2 separate regions of the Homo sapiens genome follow, and region 2 is linked to region 1. A link means that fine-mapping ties the variant in region 1 to the expression of a gene that starts in the linked region. Tissue or cell type: skeletal muscle. Region 1 holds a variant in brackets; the other region holds the start of a gene. All regions are shown on one strand. Distances are between the middles of the regions.

What was found. PIP is the estimated chance that this variant, and not a neighbour inherited with it, causes the effect.
Region 2: INCR1 starts here. The variant in region 1 is fine-mapped to the expression of INCR1 in skeletal muscle (GTEx, PIP above 0.99). The same link has a PIP of 0.9 or more in whole blood.

What each region holds. Positions count from the first base shown.
Region 1 is chr9:5,656,146-5,665,422 of GRCh38, forward strand. RIC1 (RIC1 partner of RAB6A GEF complex) reads left to right here. Exons shown (of 26, transcript NM_020829.4): 2 at 438-545. Among named protein-coding and RNA genes, the nearest start is that of INCR1, 31 kb to the left of the region's middle. The variant C/G (reference allele first, on the strand shown) is at 5,425.
Region 2 is chr9:5,624,533-5,633,809 of GRCh38, forward strand. It overlaps INCR1 (interferon stimulated noncoding RNA 1), which reads right to left and starts at 5,195. Exons shown (of 3, transcript XR_007061406.1): 1 at 5,035-5,195. It overlaps RIC1 (RIC1 partner of RAB6A GEF complex), which reads left to right and starts at 4,575. Exons shown (of 26, transcript NM_020829.4): 1 at 4,575-4,921. The coding sequence starts at 4,778. RefSeq lists enhancers at 2,765-2,984, 4,895-5,395 and a silencer at 4,335-4,874.

The DNA.
Region 1 (9,277 bases):
AGGCATGAGCCACCGCGCCTGGCCTGTAGTTTTCTTTTCATGTAATATCCTTTTCTGATTTTGGTATTAAGGGAATGCTGGACTCAAAATTAGGAAGTACTCCTGCTTCTATCTTGTGGAAGGCTTTGTAAAGAATTGGTGTAATTTCTCCCTTAAACGTTTGGTAGACTTCACCTATGAACACATTTAGTCCTGGTTCTTTCTGTTTTGGATGATTATTAATTATTAATTCAGTTTCTTTAATAATACAGGCGTAGGTTTAGGTCTTTGTTTTGGTTGATATGCTTGCAATGTTGAAAGCCGATAGTTTAATATCAATATTGTCTTTTATTTTACTGTAAAAATACTTTGAATACTCTGTTATCTTAAATTTTATTTGTGTATTTTTATGAGATATTGATAAAAAATACAACTTTTTTTTTTTTTTAATCACACAGCCTAGTGTGTTAATTGTAACCTACAAGGAGCCTGCAAAATCATCTACTCAGTTTGGATCCTACAAGCAAGCTGAATGGAGGCCAGATAGTACCATGATAGCTGTATCAGTAAGTAGATTTTACCGCTAAATAGTGTTTTCTTATGAAATCATTACATCGCATTTAAATTTGATTCTCTTAGATGACTTTCTTTCAGTCTTTTGCACTCATAAGTATTTATTTTATTCTGATAGGAATTGCTTTACTGATTATTCTATGTGGATTACTCCTACTATAGCTTTTCTTCTGACTCTGCTACTTCCTTAACAAAGCACCTATATCCCTAAACATAGCACCTGTATCCTTTTCTGTTTGTTGTTCTCACTTTACTGTTTTGCCCTTGAAGTCTAACTGCTTTACTAATTATTCTGTGCGTGTTACTCCTACTATAGCTTCTGTTTTGACTCTGCTGCTTCCTTCCATCCCTAAACATAGCACCTATATCCTTTTCTGTTTGTTGTTCTCACTTTACTGTTTTGTCCTTGAAGTCTTATCTAGTTTTTTAAAACATATTCACATGATATTCTTGAATTTATATTTAAATTCCTCCCTTCCATTCCAAAAGATATTCCAGAAAATAATAAGCTTTATGTGCATATGTTATACTAAAATTTCCATATCCATTTGGATCTGTTTCTCCTTTTTTTCTTCTGTTCTATTAAACGTGCCTAGATATGTTTAATTTTACCTTTTCAGTTCATGTTTCATCACTGTCTAAGGCTGTCATTATGACTTAATATGCATTAGCAGTAATATATGTGGTTAATTAACATTATTGAGCACCTCCTATCCGATGAGTACAATTGTAATCAGTTTACATGGATCATCCCATTTAATCTTTAGATAAGTGCTTTGAAGTAGATATTATTATCCTTCATAATGGATGTGTAAATTGAGGATCTGAAAAATTGTCTTATCCAAGGTTACATGCGTAGTGTATATTAGAGAGATAAGGTATAAACTTAGCTACTCAGCTTCCATTTACTATATCCTTATATCTAATTTATCTCTTTGCGTTGGTCCCTTTCTAGTCCATACTGTATATAACACTGACTAGGTTAATAGTCTGAAATGTTCATATGATGAAAAATACTGAGTAGTTCTACGCTTCCTATAGCAGGAGTTTGCAGATGACTGACCATGTACCAAATATGCCCTGGTGCCTGTTTGTACACAGACCATAATGTAAGAATAGTTTTTACATATTTAAATAATCAAAACAAGTCAAAGAAGAATATTTGCTACAGTTGAAAATTATGTGATACTTAAATTTCAGTGTCCATAACTAAAATTTTACTGGGGCACGAAAATCCTCACTGATTTATGTATTGTCTGTAACTTCTTTCAAGCTACAATAGCAGATTGAATTGAAGTTCTTACAGCAAGTGTATGTGGTGCTCTCATTGCTTTGCTCTTCTGTTCAATGCACTGTGTAGTAACACAGTTGTAACTTCATAACATTTCAAGTGTACACATATTGCCATTCTGTGACATTTTATATTATTTTTATTCTAGTACATACTCATGTCAAAAGAACCAAAGAAGACAAAAAGACTTTGTTTTGTTTTTAAAGCACACTGTAGTGTGGTTTCTTTTATTATTGAATTAGATGGCAAAATATTGTATTTATTATTCAATGGCACTATAGCTATGCCAAAAGAATATAAGCTGACATCACTAGACTAAGCACTTATCAGAATGTACTGAAGGTTAAGTTAGAAGAATTAAAAAATTTAGCACAGAACAGCTCACCACAAAATTCCTTCACAAAAATAAAATATGAAAATGAAAGTGCAGTAAAAGTAAGTTTGCTTAGTTTTTGATAAATTGACAGATGTTATAATACTGCTCAGTTGTAAATTTCAGTGGTCCATGTGAAGTATGAATTGACTAAGAATTACTGTGAATGACCTGCAGAACAATTCCAGATGAAAAAAATTCTCAAAGGAGTTGAGAAAATACTAATTCAGTACAACCCGAAGTAGAATCTAAGAAGTTGTATTAATTGATAGTAGTAAAAATCCACATGGAGCAGCAAAAGACTTAGTTGGACAGATTTACAAAGTTTGTGAAAATATAAGACTTTTAAAACCTATGGTTAGTGTAAGTTTTTTCAGAGATGGAAGCAGGAATATCTTGAATTGCCCTCCTCCACAGCTGTTATGGCTTGGGTAGTGATAAAAGTTTATTGGAAAGTTTTTTTGTTTTTTTTTTTACCGAGACTGACTTTTTTTTTTTTCTTTACTTGAAGGACCACCATCTACCACTTAACAGACACTAAATAACTTTGGAAAATAGCTTTTGCTGTATTAGAAAATGTTTTCAAATATGAATTATGTAAAATGTCATTAAGGACCAGCATTAATAGATGAAAATTTGCACTCAATTTTGATGATAGGGAAAAGTACTTTAAACCCCAATTTACCAAAAAGGTTATTTCCACAAAAAGAATCTAATTCTCATTAGTGGATGTATATTACCAAAAAAAGTTGTACTTTATGTTAAATGTTACAGTACAATATGTTAAAGAACTATTCTTTTCCCATTGAACGGTCTTGGTAGTCTTGTTGAAAATCAATTGGCCATTGGTATTTGGGGTTATTTCTGGATGCTCCATTCTGTTTCATTGTTATATATGTCTGTCCTTATTCCAGTACCACAGTTTTTAAATTACTGTGGCTTTGTAGTAACTTTTGAAATCAGGAAGTGGAATCCTCCAATTTTATTGTTGTATTTCAGGATATAAGTCATGTCAACCCATTGTCAACCCATTGTAAGTTGAAAATACCATAAGTAAAAAATTTAACAGCCCCAAACATCCATCATAATGTCGTAAGTTGAACCATCATAAGTTCAGTATCATCTATAGTTTTGACTATTCTGAGCCAGTCCCTAAGATGCTATATGACTGTTTGAACTGGTTTTCTATTTCTGTAAAAAATACCATTGGGAATTTGGTAGAGACTGCATTGAATCTGTAGTTCTCTTTGGGAAGCATTAATTTAAGTCTTCCAGCCTATGAACATGCAATGTCTTATCAATTATTTAGACCTTCAATTTCTGTAAGGAGTGTTTTCTGGTGTTCAGTATGCAAGTCTTTTTCCTGCTTCATTAAATTTATTTTTAAGTTTTAAATTTCTTTTTGATGCTATTGTAAATGGAATTGTTTTTAAGTTTCCTTTTCAGTTGTTCATTCCAAGTGTGTAGACATATATCTGATTTTTTCCAACTTAACTTCAGGGTACATGTGTAGGATGTGTGGGTTTGTTGCATAGGTAAACATGTGCTATGGTGGTTTCCTTGCACAGATTATGCCATCACCTAGGTATTAAGCCCAGCATCCATTAGCTATTCTTCCAGATGCTCTCCCTCATCCTGCGCCCTGCCCCTCCATCCTCTAACAGACCCCAGTGTATGTTGTTTCCCCCATGTGTCCATATGTTCTCATCATTCAGCTCCCACTTATAAGTGAAAACATGTGGTATTTGATTTTCTGTTCCTGTGTTAGTTTGCTGAGGATAATGGTTTCCAGCTCCAACCATGTCCCTGCAAAGGATATGATCTTGTTCCTTTTTGTGGCTGCATAGTATTCCATCGTGTATATGTACCACATTTCTTTTATTCAGTCTATCATCGGGGGACATTCAGGTTGATTCCATGTCTTTGCTATTGTGAATAGTGCTGCAGTGAATATATGCATGCATGAATGTTTGTAATAGAATGATTTATATTTTGGGGGGTATACCCAGTAATGAGATTATTGGGTCAAACGGTATTTCTGCCTCTAGGTCTTTGAGGAATTGCCTACTGTCTTCCATAATGGTTGAACTAATTTCCACTCCTACCAACAGTGTAAAAGCATTCCTTTTTCTCCACAACCTAACCAGCACCTGTTGTTTTTTGACTTTTTAGTAATAGCCATTCTGGCTTGTGTGAGACGGTATCTCATTGTGGTTTTGACTTGAATTTCTCTAATAATCAGTGATGTTGAGCTTTTTAAAATGTATTTGTTGGCCACATTTATGTCTTCTTTTGAGAAGTGTCTGTTCATGTCCTTTGCCCACTTCTTAATGGGATTTTTTTTTTCTTGTAAGTTATTAAGTTCATTGTAGATGCTGGATATTAGACCTTTCTTTGTCAGATTAATAGATTCCAAAAATTTGCTACCATTCTGTTGTTTATCTGCTCACTCCAATGATAGTTTCTGTTGCTGTGCAGAAGCTCTTCAGTTCGATTAGATCCCATTTGTCAATTTTTGCTTTTGTTGCAATTGCTTTTGTCATCCTTGTCGTGAAATCTCTGCCTGTGCCTGTGTCCCAAATGGTATTGTCTAGATTTTCTTCCTGGGTTTTACATTTAAATCTTTAATCAATCTTGAGTTCATTTTCCTTTAGGGTGTAAGGAAGGGGTCCAGTTTCAATTTTCTGCATACAGCTAGCCAGTACTCCCAGCACCATATATTACATGGGGAATCCTTTCCCCATTGCTTGTGTTTGTCAGGTTTGCTAAGATCAGATGGTGTAGGTGGGTGTTCTTGTTTCTGGGTTCTCTATTCTGTTACGTTGGTCTATGTGTTTATTCTTGTGCCAGTACCATGCTGTTTTGGTTACTGTAGCCCTGTGTTACAGTTTTAAGTCAGGTAGCATGATGCCTCTGGCCTTGTTCTTTTTGCTTTGATTGCCTTGGCTATTCGGACTCTTTGTTGGTTCCATATGAATTTTAAAATAGCTTTTTTCTAATTCCGTGAAGAATGTCAGTGGTAGTTTAATGGGGATAGCATTGAATCTATAAATTACTTTGGGTAGTATAACCATTTTCACAATATTGACTCTTCCTAGCCATGAACATGGAATGTTTTTCCATTTGTTCGTGTCATCTGTCATTTGTTTGAAAGTTGGTTTGTAGTTCCCCTTGAAGAGGTTCTTCACCTCCCTTGTTAGCTGTATTG[C/G]TAGGTATTTTATTCATTTGTGACCAACTGTGAATGGGAGTTCATTCATGATTTGGCTGTCTGCTTGCCTGTTGATGTATAAGAATGCTAATGATTTTTGCACATTAATTTTCTATCCTTAGACTTTGCTGAAGTTGCTTATCAGCTTACAAAGCTTTTGGGCTGAGGCAATGGGGTTTTCTAATATAGGATCATGTCATCTGCAAACAAAGATAGTTTAATTTTCTCTCTTCCTATTTGAATACCCTTTATTTCTTTCTCTTGCCTGATTGCCCCAGCCAGAACTGCCAATACTATGTTGAATAGGACTGGTGAGAGAGGGCATCCTTGTCTTGTGCCTTTTTTCAAGGGGAATGCTTCCAGCTTTTGTCCATTCATTATGATATTGGCTGTGGGTTTGTCATATATGACTCTTATTATTTTGAAGTATGTTCCTTCAATATCTGGTTTATTGAGAGTTTTTAACCTAAAGCGATGTTGAATTTTATTAAAGACCTTTTCCGCATCTATTGAGATAATCATGTGGTTTTTGTGTTCAGTTCTGTTTATGTGATGAATCACATTTATTGAATTGTGTATGTTGAACCAGTCTTGCATTCCGGGGATGAAGTCTACTTGGACATGATGGATAAACTTTTTGATGGGCTACTGGATATTTGCCAGTATTTTGTTGAGAATTTTTGCATTGATGTTCATCAAGCATATTGGCCTGAGGTTTTCTTTTTTTTTGTTTTGTCTCTGCCAGGTTTTGGTATCAAGATGATGCTGGCCTCATAGAATGAATTAAGGAGGAATCCCTAATTTTCAATTGTTTTGGAATAGTTTCAGTAGAAATAATACCAGCTCTTCTTTGTACCTCTGGTAGAATTCAGCTGTGAATCTGTCTGTCCTGGGCTGGTTTTTTTTTTTGGGTTGCTAGGCTCTTTATTACTTCTCAATTTCAGGACTCATTATTGGTCTATTCAGAGATTCAGTTTCTTCCTGGTTCAGTCTTAGGGAGGGTGTATGTGTCCAGAAAAGTATCCATTTCTTCTAGATTTTCTATTTAATGTGCATTGATGCATTTATAGTATTCTCTGATGATTGTTTGTATTTCTTTGGGGTCAGGATGATATCCCCTTTATCATTTCTGATTGTGTTTATTTAAATCTTCTCTTTTCTTCTTTATTAATCTAGCTAGCAGTCTATGTATTCTATTAATTTTTTTAAATAACCAGCTCTTGGATTCATTGATCGTTTGAATGGTCTTTCATGTCTCTATCTCCTTCAGTTCTGCTCTGATCTTGGTTATATCTTGTCTTCTGCTAGCTTTTGGGTTTGTTCTTGTTTCTCTAGTTCTCTTAGTTGTGGTGTTAGGTTGTTAACTTGAGATCTTTGTAGCTTTTTGATGTGGGCATGTAGTGCTATAAATTTCCCTCAACACTGCTTTAGCTGCATCCCAGAGATTCTGGTACATTGTCTCTTTGTTCTCATTAGTTTCAAAGGACTTCTTGATTTCTGCCTTAATTTCATTATTTACTCAAGTCACTCAGGAGCAGGCTGTTCAATTTCCATGTAGTTGTGTGGTTTTGAGTGAATTTCTTAATTCTTCTGAGTGAATTTTTTTGAGTGTTGTGGTCTGAGAGACTGTTATCATTTCAGTTCTTTTGCATTTGCTGAAGAGTGTTTTACTTCCGATTATGTGATCAAATTTAGAGTAAGTGCCTTGTGATGATGAGAACAATTAGTTTCTGTTGTTTTAGGATGGAGAGTTCTGTAGATATCTGTCAGGTCCACTTGATCTAGAGCTAAGTTCAGATCATGAATATCTGTTAATTTTCTGTCTTGGTGATCTGCCTAATATTGTCAATGGTGTGTTAAGTCTGCTACTATTATTGTGTGGGAGTCTAAGTCTTTTTGAAGGTCTCTAAGAACTTGCTTTAGGAATCTGGGTGTTCCTATACTGTGTGTGCATATATGGAGGATATTTGGCGCTTATTAAATTGAACCCTTTATGTAACGCCCTTTGCCTTTTTTATCTTTTTTCATTTAAAGTCTGTTTTGTGAGAAACTAGGATCGCAGTCCGTGGTTCTTTCTGTTTTCCATTTGCTTGGTAAATTTTCCTCCATCCCTTTATTTTGGGATGTGTGTCTTTGCACATGATATGGGTCTTTTGAAGACAGCATACCGCTGGGTCTTGGTTCTTTATTTAGCTTGCCATTCTGTGTCTTTTAATTGGAGCATTTAGCCCATTTACATTTAAGGTTAGTATTGTTATGTGTGGATTTGATCCTGTCATCAAGATACTAGTTGGTTATTTTGCAGACTTATGTGGTTCCTTCATAGTGTCACTGATCTGTTTACTTCAGTGTGTTTTTGTAGTGGCTGGTAATGGTTTTTCCTTTCCATATTTAGTGCTTCCTTCAGGAGCTCTTGCAAAGCAGGTCTGATGGTTACGAATTCCCTCAGCGTTTGCTTGTCTGAACAGGATCTTGTTTCTCCTTTGCTTATAAAGCTTAGTTTCGCCAGATATGAAATTCTGGGTTGGAAATTCTTTACTTTAAGAATGTTTAATATTGGCCAGGTGTGGTGGCTCACACCTGTAATCCCAGCACTTTGGGAGGCCAAGGCGGGCGGATAACGAGGTCAAGAGATCGACACCATCCTGGCCAACATTGTGAAAAACCCCATCTCTACTAAAAATACAAAAATAATTAGCTGAGTGTCGTGGCGCATACCTGTAGTCCCAGCTACTCAGGAGGCTGAGGCAGGAGAATTGCTTGAACCCAGAAGGCAGAGGTTGCAGTGAGCTGAGATTGCACCACTGCACTCCAGCCTGGCAACGGAGCGAGACTCTGTCAAAAAAAAAAAAGAATGTTTAATATTGGCCCCAATCTCTTCTGGCTTTTAGGGTTTTCACTGAGAGGTCTATTGTTAGTCTCATGGGCCTCCCCTTCGTAGGTGACCTGGTCTTTCTGTCTGACTGCCCTTAACATTTTTCTTTCATTTTGACCTTGCAGAATCTGATGATTATATGTCTTGGGGTTGATCTTCTCAGGGAATATCTTACTGAGGTTTTCTGCATTTCCTGAATTTGAATGTTGGCCTGTCTTCCTAGGTTGGGGAAGTTCTCCTGGATGATATCCTGAAATATGTTTTCCAACTTCGTTCCATTCTCCCCATCTCTTTCAGGTACCCCAGTCAGTCTTAGGTTCAGTTTATTTACATAATCCCACATTTCTCAGAGGTTTTATTCATTTTCATTCTTTTTTCTCTATTCTTGTCCGCTTATCTTATTTCAGCAAGATAGTCTTCAAGCTCTGAGATTCTTTTCTCCACTTGGTCTATTCTGCTATTAATAGTTGTGATTGCATTGTGAAGTTCTTGTAGTATGTTTCTGAGCTCTAACAGGTCGGTTATGTTGCTCTCTAAACTGGCTCCTCCTAGTATTGTCAGTGGTGTGTTCCAGTCTCCCACTATTATTGTGTGGGAGTTTAAGTCTCTTTCAAGGTCCCTAAGAACTTGCTTTGTGAATCTGGGTGTTCCTACATTGGGAGCGTATATATTGAGGACATTTAGCTCTTCTTGTTGAATTGAACCCTTTATTGTTATGTAATGCCCTTTGTCTTTTTTGATCTTGTAGTGTGTTTCTCAGCTCTAATAGGTCAGTTAACTTCCTCTCTAAACTGGCTGCTTATCTCTCACATTGTCAGTGGTGTGTTAAAGTCTCCCACTATTATTGTGTGGGAGTCTAAGTCTCTTTGAAGGTCTCTAAGAACTTGGCACGTCCTGTATTGTTTTGTCATGTTTCTTACTTTGCATTGGGTTAAAACTTGCTCCTTTAGCTCAGTGAAGTTCGTTGTTACCCACCTT
Region 2 (9,277 bases), 32 kb before region 1:
ACTTTTACTTTCCTTTAAGAACTTTTTTTCCTTTGCATTCATAACTTGGCTAACTGGTACAAGAGGCCTAGCTTTTGGCCTATCTTTGCTTTCAATATGCCTTCCTCACTTAGTTTAATCATTTCTAGCTTTTTACTTAAAGTGAGAGACGGGGATTCTTTCTTTCACTTGAACACTTAGAGGCTACTGTTGGGTTACTAACAGGCCTAATTTCAATATTGTTGCATCTCAGGGGATAGGGAGGCCCAAAGAAAGGGAGAGAGACAGAGGAACTGCCAGTTGATGGAACAGTCAGAACACACATAACATTTATCGCTTAAGTTCTCCATCTTACATGGATGTGGTACATGACACCCCAAAACAATTACAATAGTTACAACAAAGACCACTGACCACAAATCATCATAACAGATATACTAATAATGAAAAAGTTTCAAATATTGAAAGAATTACCAAAATGTGATAAGAGCCATGAAGTGAGCATATGCTATTAGAAAAAATGGTGCCAATAGACTCACTCAACACAGGGTTACCACAAACCTTATATTAAAAAAAAAAATTGCACCAAATCATACTTCCATCAAGAGAGTATAAATGTATCCCCATTTCTTATGTGTACTCTTACCAACATTATTTCTAGTAATTTAAAAAGTTTATAAGTTTCATAGATGAAAACATGCACCTAGTAACTTTTTTTTTTTTTTTTGAGACAGGATTTCATTCCTTTCACTCAGGTGGGAGTGCAATAGCATGATCTTGGCTCACTATTACCTCTGCCTCCCAGGCTCAAGCAATTCTCCTGCCTTAGCCGCCTAAGGGGCTGGGACCACAGGTGTATGCCACAGTGCCGACTGATTTTTTGTAGAGACAGGGTTTCACCATGTTGCCCAGGCTGGTCTCAAACTCCCGGGCTCAAGTGATCCGCCCACCTCTGCCTCCGAAAGTGCTGGGATTACAGGCGTGATTACCCTGCCCGGCCCCCTACTAACTTTTATCATAAGCTTAATCTTAGAACAGAGTCCAAAAATTTTGACAGGAGTGGTGGTGGAAACTAGTAGAAAAAGGAGGAGAAGACCTAAGGCATGAGAACTGTCAGTATATTTTACAAAATAAAGTTAAAATATGATATTTGAAAGTTGAAGCCAGGCACGGCGGTTCACACCTGTTATCCCAGCACTTTGGGAGGCCGAGGCTGGTGGATCATTTGAGGCTAGGAGTTGGAGACTAGCCTGGCACATGATGAAACCCCATCTCTACTAAAAATACAAAAACTAGACAGGCGTGGTGGTGCATGCCTGTAGTCCCAGCTACTCAGGAGGCTGAGGCACAAGAATCACTTGAACCCGGGAGGCGGAGGTTGCAGTGAGCCAAGATTGCACCACTGCACTCCAGCCTGGGTGACAAAGCAATGCTCTGTCTCAAAAAAAAAAAAAAAAAGAAAGAAAGAAAAAGAAATGATGTTGAAAAATCCAGCCAATAACATTTTTGTCACAATAGGGGAACTCTCAAGTATAGGGTTTTGGAGAGTCAGATATTTCCTTTTCTCCCCGCCAGGGAGAAAGACCTAGAGGTTTCCCCCACTCCCTCTCACTGTCCAGAGCAATTACCACAATTTAGTTCAGCCTAAAGAGCATATGCTGTTGGAAAAACAGCAACAATAGACTTACTTGATGCAGGGATGCCATAAGCCTTAATTTTTTTTTTTTTTTTTGAGACAAAGTCTCACTCTGTTACCCAGCCTGGAGTGCAGTGGAGCGATCTCGGCTCACCGCAACCTCTGCCTCCCAGGTTCAAGCAATTCTCCTGCCTTATCCTCCAGAGTAGCTGGGATGACAGGTGCATATCACCATGCCTGGCTAATTTTTGTATTTTTTTTTTTTTAGCAGAAAGACAGGGTTTCACCATATTGGCCAGGCTGGTCTCAAACTCCCGACCTCATGATCCGCCTGCCTTGGCTTCCCAAAGTTTTGGGATTACAGGCATGAGCCACCGCGCCCAGCCAAACCTTAAATTTTTAAAAAAATCACACAGGAGGCTGGGTGCGGTGGCTCACGCCTGTAATCCCAGCACTTTGGGAGGCCGAGGTGAGCGGATCACCTGAGGTCGGGAGTTCCAGATCAGCCTGACCAACATGGAGAAACCTCGTCTCTACTAAAAATACAAAATTAGCCAGGCATGTTGGTGCATGCCTGTAATCCCAACTACTCCAGAGGCTGAGGCAGGAGAATTGCTTGAACCCAGGAGGTGGAGGCTGCAGTGAGCTGAGATGGCACCATTGCACGCCAGCCTGGGCAACAAGAGCGAAACTCCACCTCAAAAAAAAAAAAAAAGAAAGAAATCACACTGGATCTGTAGAAAGAACATCAGTTCTTTTCAGGCCATGTGAATTCAGGCACATCTACCACACCTGTCCTGTTTCCTCACTTGAGAAAGTGAGAATAACAACATCACACCAATGTCACTCACCTTGAATGTTTACTATGAATTAAATCAAGACAAGCATTTGGAATTATTTTGTGAATCTTAAGTGCTACACAGGAGTGTGGCAGAGGAATAAGCTTCTAAAGTCAGCAAGTAAGGTTAAAATTGAGTGCAATAAAAATTGCTTAGAAGTTCCTTAAATTGCCCATGAGCACAGTATGACAAACTTGAGACACATGAGAACAAAGACTCTCTGAGAGACAGCTGGGACAAACATTCAGTAACACTGCCAGCAAAATTGCTGCACTAGAACATTTTCATTTCCTCTTTCTGCCAAGTGCATAACTGAATCTAAGATGAAAGTATGATGCAACTTTGTTATTCTACAATTTGAAATTGGCAAGTTAAGAAACCTCTCTGGGCCTCTTTGTCTAATGGTGTAGCTCAGCTGGATCAGGGTTTCCTCCACGGTTTGTCTGACAAATACTGCCAGCTTACTATGCTTACTATGTTCCAGGCTGCTGTGTTGGACTGGGGGAGGGTAGACGCCAAGGAGACAATCTGATCGCAACAGGCTGGTGAGTGGTGAGGCAGTTTCAACCTCCATTTGAGGAATACAGGATTCTATCATCACCTTCCAGGGAATGCAGTGAATGTTTAGAAAAATTACAGAAAGTTACATATTTGGTTATGAATACCAGCTACAATGCTATATCTAATATGAATTAAGTTTCTTTGTTTCCTTTTTTCTGTTTATGTTGCTACTTTTTTTTTTTTTTTTGAGACAGTCTCACTCTGTTGCCCAGGCTGGAGTGCAGTGGAGGGATCTTGGTTTGCTGCAACTTCCGCCTCCCAGGTTCAAGCGATTCTCCTGCCTTAGCCTCCTGAGGAACTGGGATTACAGGCACCTGCCACCACGCCCAGCTAATTTTTGTATTTTCAGTAAGACGGGGGTTTCACGATGTTGGCCAGGCTGGTCTCGAACTGCTTACCTAAAGTGATCTGCCCGCCTCGGCCTCCCAAAATGCTGGGATTACAGGCGTGAGCCCCAGCACCCCGCCTACGTTGCTACTTTTTAATGTGGGGTCATTTTTTAAACCTGGCTTTTTAATTGAAAAAGTAATACAAACATATGGAAAAATTCAAACTGTACTAAAAAAGGTAGACAATGAGAAGCAAATCTTTCTTCTATTTCAGACTCCTCCTTCCCCCATTCCACACCATATCCCCTCAACCCTCCTTCTATTCAGACGTTACCACTGGGTCAATCCGTTGAAAGTTACAGCTAAGGTGATACCTGGGGTCCAAAAGCTAAATATGGACCTACGCTATCACCAGTCCCTTCCAGTTCTAAAACTAAGTCCAAGCCTTTTGCAGCACGAAAGAGATAGCCTCCTCTCATCTAAAGTTATGGCTGGTAAGGCTGAGACGAATGGAAATGGATTTCAAAGACATAGATTTAGAACTCCTGAAAGGCAGGAGACAGAACTCAATACTTTCATGGTGAGTGGTTTATTTACTGATTAAATAAACGCTCCCTTAGGGATGTAAGCTCCACACCGGCAGGAGCTTCATCACCAGCTCTCACTGCAGACCCCGGCATTAAAGGAGCTCACACGGTAAAAGCCCCTACCGCCCACCACAGCCACAGCGGCCGGCAGCCCAAAGTGGGAAACCGCGCCGGCCGTCACGTGACTCCAGCTCCCCCCGGCAACCGGCCCGCCCCCACCGAGACCCCGCCAATCCGGAAGGGAGGTCCAATTTGGCCAGGCCAGGGCGTGTTCCACCGGCCCAGTAGCCTTGCTGCTGCGTTATCCCTAGACTCGCCCCACTTGCCTCGGAGTCTCAGGCCGTTGCCTAGGTCCTCCCGGTAAAACCCTGGAGACTGCTAGGGAGAGGAGCAAGGGAGGGGCCAGCGCGCAGAAGTGCGGACGCAACCCGGCGGCCGCGGGCGAGGCTTATGCAGAGCTTCAAGAAACAGCTAGGGAGACCGCAGGAGTCTCCAGAGCGCGCGCGCGGGCCCTCCCCGGCCCGACCCACGCGGCGCGGCGTGGTGACGCCCGCGCGGCCTGAGGAAGGGGCGGGGTCGGGGCGGGCCTCCGCGCTCCTCCCGCCCTCTCTGTGTCCCTACTCTCCCTCCCCTTCCCTCCCCCACACTCGGCCCCGTCAGCTTGGGGGTGCCTTCGTCGCGCAGCCTTGCGTCGGCCCGGCCCGGCCAGGCCAGCGGGCAGATGCCCCGAGCTGCCGCCGCCGCCGCCGCCGACTCGGCCGGTGGCGGTGTGGGAGGTGGGCGACCAGCCCGGGGCCGCTGAGTGTGACGGACGCAACTGGGGGCGCCGGGGGCTCCGCACGGACCATGTATTTTCTGAGCGGCTGGCCCAAGAGGCTGCTGTGCCCTCTGGGGAGCCCGGCCGAGGCGCCTTTCCACGTTCAGTCCGACCCGCAGAGGGCTTTCTTCGCCGTGCTGGCCGCGGCCCGCCTCAGCATCTGGTACAGCCGAGTAAGTAGAGCCGCCCGCCGCCTTTCGCCGCTGCCTCCCCGGCCTCCCGGCGCCGTCCCACCCCCAACTTCCACCCAGAGCCTAGGACTCCTGCCCCTTCGTGCCAGACCCACCTGCCTTCGCAGTCCGCGTCCTCGTTCCACCGAATTGGCCGCAGGTACCCGCCGGCTGCAGGCACGTCCTCCAGCCGGCGGTCCGGGGTGGATGAAGTCGCTGCTGCCGAAAATCCCTGAGCCTCCCCGCGTTGGACCGACGGCCGCGGCGTGCAGACTCCGCACGCTCCCCGGCCGAGCCCAGACTTGTTCTTCTCTCCCTTCCCCCATTCCCCGAGGGACAAATTTGTTTAAACTTTCCACAATTAGAAATCCGGCCGCTGTGGTGCCCCAACCCTCCCTTACTTTAAAGGTCGCCGTTTTGGAGTTAGGGAAAGCCTCTTGGGCTTTACCCAGCGCCAGACTTTACAGGCCTGTAATAACTTATTTCTACAAACTACAGCCTGAATTCTTTATTCTTCACTAAAGGTCTGGTTATTTAACTCCCCTCTTTAACCCCAACATCCCTTCCCCACTTTCGAGTTGGTCTTTTTCTTTGCTGCTGCTCTTGGACTCTTCGGAATAGGGGGTTAAAGGAGCGGAAGTAGAACTCAAATCTGTCCGCGGAACTCCCAGTTATAACACCTGGAAATAATAAGGCTTGGGAGGAGCATGGAACTGAATTCTGTTTTTGCTTTAAGTCCTGGTTATCTTTTTCTTTCTTGTATTGAATTACTGAGTAGATATGAGAAAGAAATAAGTGGTGGATGGGATACTCCCTACTCTCTGCAAACACTGCTATAACTTTGTCTATGAGAACGACAGAGTTCAGAGTATAAAAATGCTTTTTTTCCTCCCCAAAGAAGGCAGTACCAATCGATGTCAGAGTGAAGTTTTTCTCCTTTCCAAGTTAATTTGACCATGTGGGGATAGGTTGTGATCTTGTCCTTATTAGGTGTTCGTGAAATACTGGTTTTAGTTTGTTAAAATCCCCAAATCTTTGTGTGTTGCTGTTCCATTACCTGTAATGCCCTTGACAGTCCTCACCCACTTCCCTGGTAATACTGGTGATGGGATTTAGTGACGGGTAATTCTGGTGTCTCCTTTGACTGTCATAGTTGGGCTGTAAATCAGACTATTTGCCATCAAGTTTTGGCTGATCTAATTTTCAAATGCAAATCAGAACAAAACAAACTTATAAAATCGTAATACCAACAATATGACTATTTTGTCTAGTGCCTGATTGTATTTTGAATATATATGTATGTATGTGTGTGTGTATATATATAAACATATGTGTAAATATATATAAAGTATCATCTGGTTCCTAAATGAGATATTCGTTTACAATGTATATGCCAGTTGAATAATTTTTAATTTGTTTAGGTGTATATAACTCAACTTTAAAGCACATGCAGAAAAAAATAGAACTTGAATTTAAATTGTCTTTTGAATTTAATACATAATTCCTTTTGAATGTAACAAATTTAGACTTTCGTCTAAAATTTAACTTTTCTTACCTTTAAAAAGGCAGACCTAACTTAATTTTAAATAAAAGTAAACAATATGACCTATGAATTGACCAGAAGCCTGTAAACCACTTTATTCCCCCATAAGAGAAGCATAAACATATGCTTTAATTTAGGGACATTGTGAATATTCTTAAGCATGTCTATTGTTTGGTTTTGGAGTTACATACGACATCTAGAAATCCAAGGCAGTTCTGGAATTTAAACTATTCATACTCTTCTTTCAAATTCCCACCTCACATGCAACTTCCTTTTTCCACAGAAGTCCAGGGACCCCTACTATTAAGTTCTGTTGTGCAAAAGTTAGGCTGTAGGGAACCCATGGGTTTAGAGGTCTGGAGTGAAATGAAATGCAGGAATACCTTAGAGGAGGCTGTATAGTACTGTAGTATGAGTGGTTAACCTTGGTCTCTGGGCACCAGCTTTGTTGTCACTGAAAAAAATCAGATATTCACGAGGTCAAGAGATCGAGACCATCCTGGCCAACATGGTGAAATCCCGTCTCTACTAAAAATACAAAAAAATAGCTGGGCGTGGTGGTGCACGCCTATAGCCCCAGCTACTCGGGAGGCTGAGGCAGGAGAATCGCTTGAACCCAAGAGGCAGAGGTTGCAGTGAGCCAAGATCCCACCACTGCACTCCAGCCTGGCGACAGAGCAAGACTCTGTCTCAAAAAAAAAAAAAAAAAAAAATCAAATATTGAACCAAGTGATTATAAGGTGTATGATTACATGCCTAGGTGAGTGGGATACATATGCTAGACTCCAGCTTCCAATCTTCTCTTCCTGGGATATGCCCTTTCTTACTCTGTATGAAAGTTTTCATTTTGATTTTCTAATTTGTAAACTTCCTGAAAGTATGTAAGTTAATTAGGTTAACAAACTTCATTTAAAAGTGAAAATGCCTTTAGGTAAATTAAAGGGCTATCAGTTATACTTCCATAATTTAGAGTGAATTGGTTTAAAAAGTTCTCATGGAGCTGCTAAAAGCTTTGATTTTTGAGAGGCTGTAGATACAAGTAGTTTTATAATAATATGTGAAGATCTACAGGATTTTACAGAGTTGAAGTCTTACAGCTGCTTGAGGGCATTTGAAGGCAGGGAGACATGCTCGTAGAGATGATAAAACAAGATTTGCTTACCTGAAATTTTGTTAGGGCTCACTTAGTAAATCAGGCTCTCTTAGGAGTGATATATTTTAAAAAGAGACAACTAGCCTTGTGGAAGGGACAGTCGTTTAGTAGTCTAAGCTGGTTGTTTCAATGTTCAAAAGAATTGTGGAAATTGTATGTGTACAGTGATAATTCATAAGACTGAATCTCTATTAAAATCTCTAACTGTACATTATATGGGTCTTCTAATGAACTTTTATGTACTACTTATACCTACTGTCCTCTATTCTAAGTAGGTATTCGGAATTCCACTGTTTAGACTCATATCTCTTCAGAATTATTTCCTACCCCAAATTTGAGAAATACAGTATAGTGTTGTTTATGAACAAAAGAGCCTCTAGATAGTTACTTAGCTTTTTTATATTGGAGCCCCAATATTATATTTTGGAGCCCCCCAAATGGTGTTAAAAAAAGGCTCAGTATGTGTAGGCTAGATTGGGGTGGTAGAGGTAGAACTTGACTGGGGGCAGTTGGTACATTTCTGCTAAGGTTATTGTAAAAGGACTAGTTTCAGCTTTGAGGATGAAACTGTTGCATAAGGTAGGTTATGATTTATGATTGACGTAGGTGTAGTGTGAGATGAATTACATTTTGTACTGTACTGAGGGCCCAGAATTATTCCTTTAATATACTAACTGTGACTATGAAAGTCTATATATGTGAACATCAGAATGGTATCTTTGAATTTAGCCATTCTAAATTAGATGTATAGACATTCTCGTTTTTCAGGTCACCGACTTTAAACATTTAAATTAGCTTCAGAAGTATTTTTGAACATCAACTGTAAAAGACAGATGTGTATAAAAGGGATGAAGAGACATGTTATATGTTAGTGTGTTAGATGTTAGTGTGTTAATATAAATCTTGTGAGATATCACTGTTGTAGGTAGCTAATAAAAAGCTGAAATGGGCAAATAATTACTAGGCTTATAAAATAAATTATATGTCGTTTAGTAATCCTGAGCAAAAACTTAGTTCCCATTGGTATGTGCTAATCATGGAAAAAAACAATGATATGTCAAAAGAACCAAGCTTTGGATCAGGTATGTGATTAACTGTGTTGACCTCAGGAAGACCATTTTATTTGTATTTTCCCAGCATTCCCATTTCTCACCCTTTTAACTCTATTACTTTCTCCAGAGAGCCTTCTTTATAAATTCACTGCTCTGAAGTCTTCTAGGGTTCACTGTTGATGAAAGAATGGAGTTCAAACTCCTTAGTTTGATATCACAGACACTCCCTTCTTGGAATGCTCTCTTGCCTCATTTCTGCCTGTCAGAGTATTATCTATCCTTTAACTGCTGTTGAAATCCTTTCTTTATGAGTCATTCTTTACCTACCGTAACCATAAGTGTTCATTTTTCTGATGAACTACTGCTTCCCCACTACTGCCAGCTTTGTTGAGGTATAATTGACAAATAAAAATTGTATATATTTAAGGTGTGCTGTGCGATACTTAGATCTACCCTGTGAGTTGATAATCACAATCAGTCTAATTAACAGATCCACCATCTCACACAGCTCCCTCTTTTTTTGTATGTGGGATGAGAACACTTAAGACCTACTCTCTTAGCAAATTTCAAGTATACAATATATGTTAATTATGGAAATAAATGTCATTATT